2 linked regions of the Homo sapiens genome follow. The protein of the gene in region 1 interacts with the protein of each later gene in a pairwise test. Each region holds a gene or a part of one and is shown on either strand. Other genes may lie near its edges. The genes, in order: RASSF6 and STK3.

Region 1 (3,843 bases):
ACTGCAACCTCCGCCTCCTGAGTTCAAGCGATTCTCCTGTCTCAGCTTCCTGAGTAGCTGGGATTACAGGTGTGCGCCACCACACCTGGCTAATTTTTTTGGTATTTTTAGTAAAGACGGGGTTTCACCATAGTGGTCAGGCTGGTCTCAAACTCATGACCTCAAATGATCCGCCCACCTCGGCCTGCCAAAGTGCTGGGATTACAGGCATGAGCCACCGTGCCTGACACCCCCCTTCTCATCCTCTCATCTGCATTTCCCCAATCCCCCACCAGGTAATCTATCTCAATGGTTTTGTATTTATCACTCCATACCTTTCTCCCTAGTCATAAGACCATATATACCACATACTTAAATGGGAGCTTGTAACTGTTTAAAAAATGGGATCTTTTATATATACCTTTAGGCATCTTGCATTTCTCACTTAAAATATATTATGGAACTCCCTCCATTCTATTGGCATAAATCTACTCATTCCATTCAATGGCAGCCTAACAATCACTTATTTAATCATTTCCCTAGGATGAGTAACTTTGTCTTTAGCTTTTTGTCCTTATAAACAGTGTTACACATAAATCTGTAGGCACTAGTGCTTATATTTTTGTGGGATAGATTCTCACAAATGGAATGGTCAAGTTAAAGGACATATATACTGTAAATTTTAATAAATATTGCAAGAATAAATTCCAATAAGAAGAAAGTCATATTTTCACTAGTGTTGCATAAAAATATCTTTTTACCCTGATGCATGCCAGCCATGGGTAGAATCATTTTAAAGCATTTTGCCAATCTGAGAAGTGCAAGATAATATTACGGTGTGGCTTGAGCTTGCATTTCCTTAGCTACTTGCATTTCACTGAATTTAAGACTTTTCTAAAACTATTTAACTGGTTATTATGGTTTTTCCTTTCAATTGTATTTTCATGCTTTTTTCTATTTTTATCGGATTGTCTGTTGTTTTGTTACCATTTTGTAGGAAATTATTGGTATTATAGTTATTAATCTTTGGAGTACATTGACAATATTCTTTGTAATCTACTATTTGTATCTTTTAAATTGTTACACAGTCCAGTATTGCTACCATTTATTTTATATCTTTTGGTTTTCTTTCTTTCCTAAACAACTAGAATATGAATATATATGTGTCCTTAGAATTTTCCAAAAAATAGATCTTTATTTTATTTTATTTTATTTTTATTATTATTATACTTTAAGTTTTAGGGTACATGTGCACAATGTGCAGGTTAGTTACATATCTATACATGTGCCATGCTGGTGTGCTGCACCCACTAACTCGTCATCTAGCATTAGGTGTATCTCCTAATGCTATCCCTCCCCCCTCCCCCGACCCCACAACAGTCCCCAGAGTGTGATGTTCCCCTTCCTGTGTCCATGTGTTCTCATTGTTCAATTCCCACCTATGAGTGAGAATATGCGGTGTTTGGTTTTTTGTTCTTGCGATAGTTTACTAAGAATGATGATTTCCAATTTCATCCATGTCCCTACAAAGGACATGAACTCATCATTTTTTATGGATGCATAGTATTCCATGGTGTATATGTGCCACATTTTCTTAATCCAGTCTATCATTGTTGGACATTTGGGTTGCTTCCAAGTCTTTGCTATTGTGAATAATGCCGCAATAAACATACGTGTGCATGTGTCTTTATAGCAGCATGATTTATAGTCCTTTGGGTATATACCCAGTAATGGGATGGCTGGGTCAAATGGTATTTCTAGTTCTAGATCCCTGAGGAATCGCCACACTGACTTCCACAATGGTTGAACTAGTTTACAGTCCCACAAACAGTGTAAAAGTGTTCCTATTTCTCCACATCCTCTCCAGTACCTGTTGTTTCCTGACTTTTTAATGATTGCCATTCTAACTGGTGTGAGATGGTATCTCATTGTGGTTTTGATTTGCATTTCTCTGATGGCCAGTGATGGTGAGCATTTTTTCATGTGTTTTTTGGCTGCATAAATGTCTTCTTTTGAGAAGTGTCTATTCATGTCCTTTGCCCACTTTTTGATGGGGTTGTTTGTTTTTTTCTTGTAAATTTGTTTGAGTTCATTGTAGATTCTGGATATTAGCTCTTTGTCAGATGAGTAGGTTGCGAAAATTTCCTCCCATTTTGTAGGTTGCCTGTTCACTCTGATGGTAGTTTCTTTTGCTGTGCAGAAGCTCTTTAGTTTAATGAGATCCCATTTGTCAATTTTGGCTTTTGTTGCCATTGCTTTTGGTGTTTTAGACATGAAGTCCTTGCCCATGCCTATGTCCTGAATGGTAATGCCTAGGTTTTCTTCTAGGGTTTTTATGGTTTTAGGTCTAACGTTTAAGTCTTTAATTATAGATCTTTAAGCTTTCAATTATAAGAACTTTAATTTTATATATGTTTAGAGATACAGCTTTCATTTTCTTAAGGTGTTCTGGCATCAAAATGTATTATTTTATTCTAATAAATTTCTGGCTTGAACATTCTGACACTTAAATTATAGCATGAGTTTTTTCTACAAATTGATATATAAAATTTTTCATTTGTGAAGTTTTAAAAACTTTCATTTCAGTATCACTTTAAGTTTTCTCTATTCTCTCTATTATGCTCCTAGCATCCCACTTACAGCGCCTTCCCAATGTTCTGCTTCTAACCTTTCACCCCTCACCACGAAGTTCTGAATATGCATCTCTACTGAGGAAGAGATAGCACTCCCGCAATGTGTCAGACCCTGTGCTAAAAAAGAGGCAATATCAATGTCAGAGAGAACAGGTATGCAATCATGACTCCTCTAAGAGCAACACTCAGAAAGGAAAGCCAAAAAGAAAGTTACAGAGGTGAGCAAAGACAAAAGTGCCGAAACAGTTCCAGAGGGTTTTGATCTCCATTTAGATAATTTAATGTCTGGCCAACAAGCAAACTCTTTCATATAATCAACCCTTCAGGGATACCTTATTCTTAAGTTATCTTTCTTTAAAATTGTGGACTATAGATAATGTTCTAAAGACCACTCCTTCCTTTTCTCCTACCCATTCCTCCCCTTTCTCCACAGAATGAGGCAAACTGTTCTTCTGCCTTCCCCCTGGGCAGCAAACTGTAGCACTCTAGAGTCAGGTAAAAAGTGTGATCAAGCTTTCTTACCTCCTGTTGCAAAAATAATGTGAAGAGCAAAATCCTGGGGACTATTTTCAATCTGTCAAGGGAAAAAATGAACAAATATAAATTCTTTGTTGTTATATGATGTTTTCTAACCTGACCAGACCCAAATCATGTCTGTTTTCTCTCTTCCATTTTTCACTTTTAGACATAAAATCTTCTCTGCTCTTATGGGAATTATATAATTTTTCAAGGGATAGTTACTAAAAGGTGTTATACAAAGGAAAGAATCTTTCAGTGCTCAACATCCAATTTAGATTTACACCTTTATAGATCTGTTTCAGAAGAGTGGATTTGTGTGTTTATAGTTGAATTATATATAATATATTTATAGCTCAGTTAAGTGATAAAGGTTACCTTAAATTTTTGGAGAAGTTGCTTTATTACTTCTTCAGTTCTCATGTTACTGTTTACTCTGACCTTAGTTTCTGATTCAAAGGCTGGAATGAAAATTGATGTCTAGAAAAAGAATTGTCACATAAGTCTTTAAAATTATATTATATTAAGGGTATTCAATATCTTGAACATAATCTTCTTATAGGGCAAAAAAAATCCAAGGTCATTAATTTAAAAAATTTGTTTTGTTTTTGTTTGTTTTTCTTTGTTGTTTTTGAATATTATGTGTTCTTTTAAGCAGCTTTATATTGTTTCTAGAGTAAATTAGGTAAAACACCATTTGAGGATGCTTATAACA
Region 2 (2,621 bases), on another chromosome or scaffold:
TTACCTAGGGTACAAATACCATTTTTAAAAAGGAATGGAAGCTTTCCAGAGACAATATACCTTCTGTGACAGACATTAGTGAACTCATCAGCTTTTCCTGTTCTCTCCCCTCCAGCTACGTGGTGATGCTACTCTTCCTGACTCCCTCGAAGTTAGGAGTGTCCATGTGACTAATTCTGAATACTGGGTTGTGGCCAACCAGACATGTATCACTACTGGCTGGAGCTAGTATGAAACTCTCCAGCTCCCCTTCTCCTTATTGTGGTGACCACAGATATCTCAGATGGTTGAGGCCCTGTCAGCAGGTCCCTGGGTGTGGATGATAGGAGCAGGGCGCCCTGCCAAACTGGGGTGGGCCTGGAGCAAGAGTGAGGAATAACCTGTATTATGTGAAGCCGCTGAAGGGTGAGGGTTGTCAGCACTGCATAATCTAGCCTGTCCTAACTAATATACGTCCCTTGCTTGGAAAATGCAGAGTCCAGGTCATGAGTTTTAACAAAGATACAGAAACGAAATATGCTGGGTGGCACAGTGAAATTTATTTGTCTTTATGATTTACACATAATAATTAAACACACAAAAGAAAAAACACTGTCAAGATGGCCATATGTAGCTTAGGAAATGACTGGTCCCAATGCAATCATATAAATGTTCATTCAGCGTAAAAATGAGTTTCTTTTTAATGGTTTTAATCTTTTTTTTTTCAGTCCCCAAGGCTTGTACCACTCAGTACAAATGTTTTTGCTACTGGGTTATCATCAGGAACATGATGTTTACCAATTCCCAGGAAATGAATAAAATCAACAGAAACATCCTGTGACAACAGAGCACATTTTCATAGAAATGAAATTGATGAGCTTATTACAGTTTGAATCAGTTCAGCTATTAGATCTACACATAAAACATGAAACAATATTAACAAATTACATTTGTATTAAGTTTTTATTTAAAAATATTTATCACACTTTTTTGTGCAAGGGTTCCATTGATTTCTTTGGTTTTAAACACGATAGATCTATTTTACCTAAATATATATAGTTCTATTTGTACCAAACATCAAAAATCAAAAAAACAAAATTTCAAAGGGTAAAAATGGAATTATTGCTTCAATATAAAAAAGGCCTAGCCCATTTGAGAACTACTGCCATTATTGCTTTCCTATTTGAAAAACTATCCTGGAAATCAAGGAATGTACCCCATAGCTCCCTGCAGAAAGTATAAATTGGTTGCACATTATCATCATATTAATATGACCCTACCTTCACCAAAGCTATCCTGATCTTGTCCTTAAAAAATGAAACAAAGCAAAATAGCATAAATAAATAAGTTTACCTAAGGGGATACAATAAATAGCCTAGTATACTAGATAGGAATAAAGAATATTGTAACATAAAGCCCTTCAGTGCTGTACAATGCAACAATAGCTTTGGATTTTCAAGGTTTAGAGACCTTGAAAATCCATTTCATAACAGTTTTATTACTGGTATGCAGCTGACAGAACAAGAGAATACACTTCTTTTGTTCTCCTCATCTTAGAGTGAATGCACAGCAGATACAACTGTCAATTCTGCCTTTTGGGAATTTACCTGGGCATGTACCATTGTCACTTTTTGACCTCTGCCTAATTGTAGGGCAAAATCTTAGGATTAAAAATATCCAAATATTCCTTCAATTCCTAGTGGTTTCTTGGTCTCCAGAATAGTTAAAAACAGAGAGGAAATTAGACTCAAAAGTTTTGCTGCCTTCTTTTCTTTGCATCCATCGCATCCAGAATGGGCTGTCTTTTCGCAGTGTATCTCTGACGAAGTTCTTCTATCTCCCGTTCCATCATGGGGTCCAGTGCTTTTAACCGCATCTGTAGTTCTTCTAAACTTAGATTTTTCAACTAGATACAGAAAGAAAGATACCAATACAATGAAATTATCCACATTATCCACAATCAATACAATGAAATTAGACTTTAATGTCTAATGAGTTTTAACATAAATATTTCAGCAAATTCTTTACATCATCTTTGAAGTATAGTTCAACAATTAAAACAGGAATTTCTTCCTTGAAGAACTCAGAGGTCATATCTTGCAAGAACCTCCAGTAATCTGCAATGAAGCAATCCGATCCTCTGCCTTTAATAAAGGGCAAATGAGAAAAATACGCTGATGGAATTTGTAAAAAGGTACAAAGACAAATCCACCACTGCCAACAAACAGATTTTCAGAATATGTTCCAGGTATATTCACTCTAACTTTTTACATCTTTGCCAGCTACTGAGTGCTACAATAATCATGAACACTTGCAGAGATCACTCAAGAATGTGACAAGACTGAATAAAGGTTAAATTAACCATTCTATCCTCCATTTTACTAAATGCTTAATAAAGAAGATGACTGTGGTAGGGGGCGGGAAGTAAGGCTGAATAGGCCTGGTGGGGCCCCAAAAGCAGGAAGCCATGATCAATTCTGGAGTAGGACAGTTATGTAAGAGTAATCCAGATTTGGTTTTCTTTTCTTCTTCTTCTTCTTCTTATTTTTTTTGACACAAGGTCTCAAACTTCTGGGCTCAAGAGATCCTCCTGCCTTGACCTCCTCAGTAGCTGGGATGTGCCACTGCACCCAGCTCAGGCT

The links.
Region 2: the proteins of RASSF6 (region 1) and STK3 interact in binary tests that used the Homo sapiens proteins (3 or more experiments, as listed by UniProt).

Annotation. Positions count from the first base shown.
Region 1 is NC_000004.12:73,578,683-73,582,525, forward strand, and holds part of RASSF6 (ras association domain-containing protein 6), read right to left. Parts: intron 3,609-3,843; coding exon 3,507-3,608; intron 3,187-3,506; coding exon 3,135-3,186; intron 1-3,134.
Region 2 is NC_000008.11:98,454,116-98,456,736, forward strand, and holds the end of STK3 (serine/threonine-protein kinase 3), read right to left. Parts: exon of another isoform or gene 2,124-2,621; coding exon of another isoform or gene 2,070-2,123; exon of another isoform or gene 1,886-2,069; coding exon 1,727-1,885; 3' UTR 518-1,726; downstream 1-517. UniProt on the Homo sapiens protein: Stress-activated, pro-apoptotic kinase which, following caspase-cleavage, enters the nucleus and induces chromatin condensation followed by internucleosomal DNA fragmentation.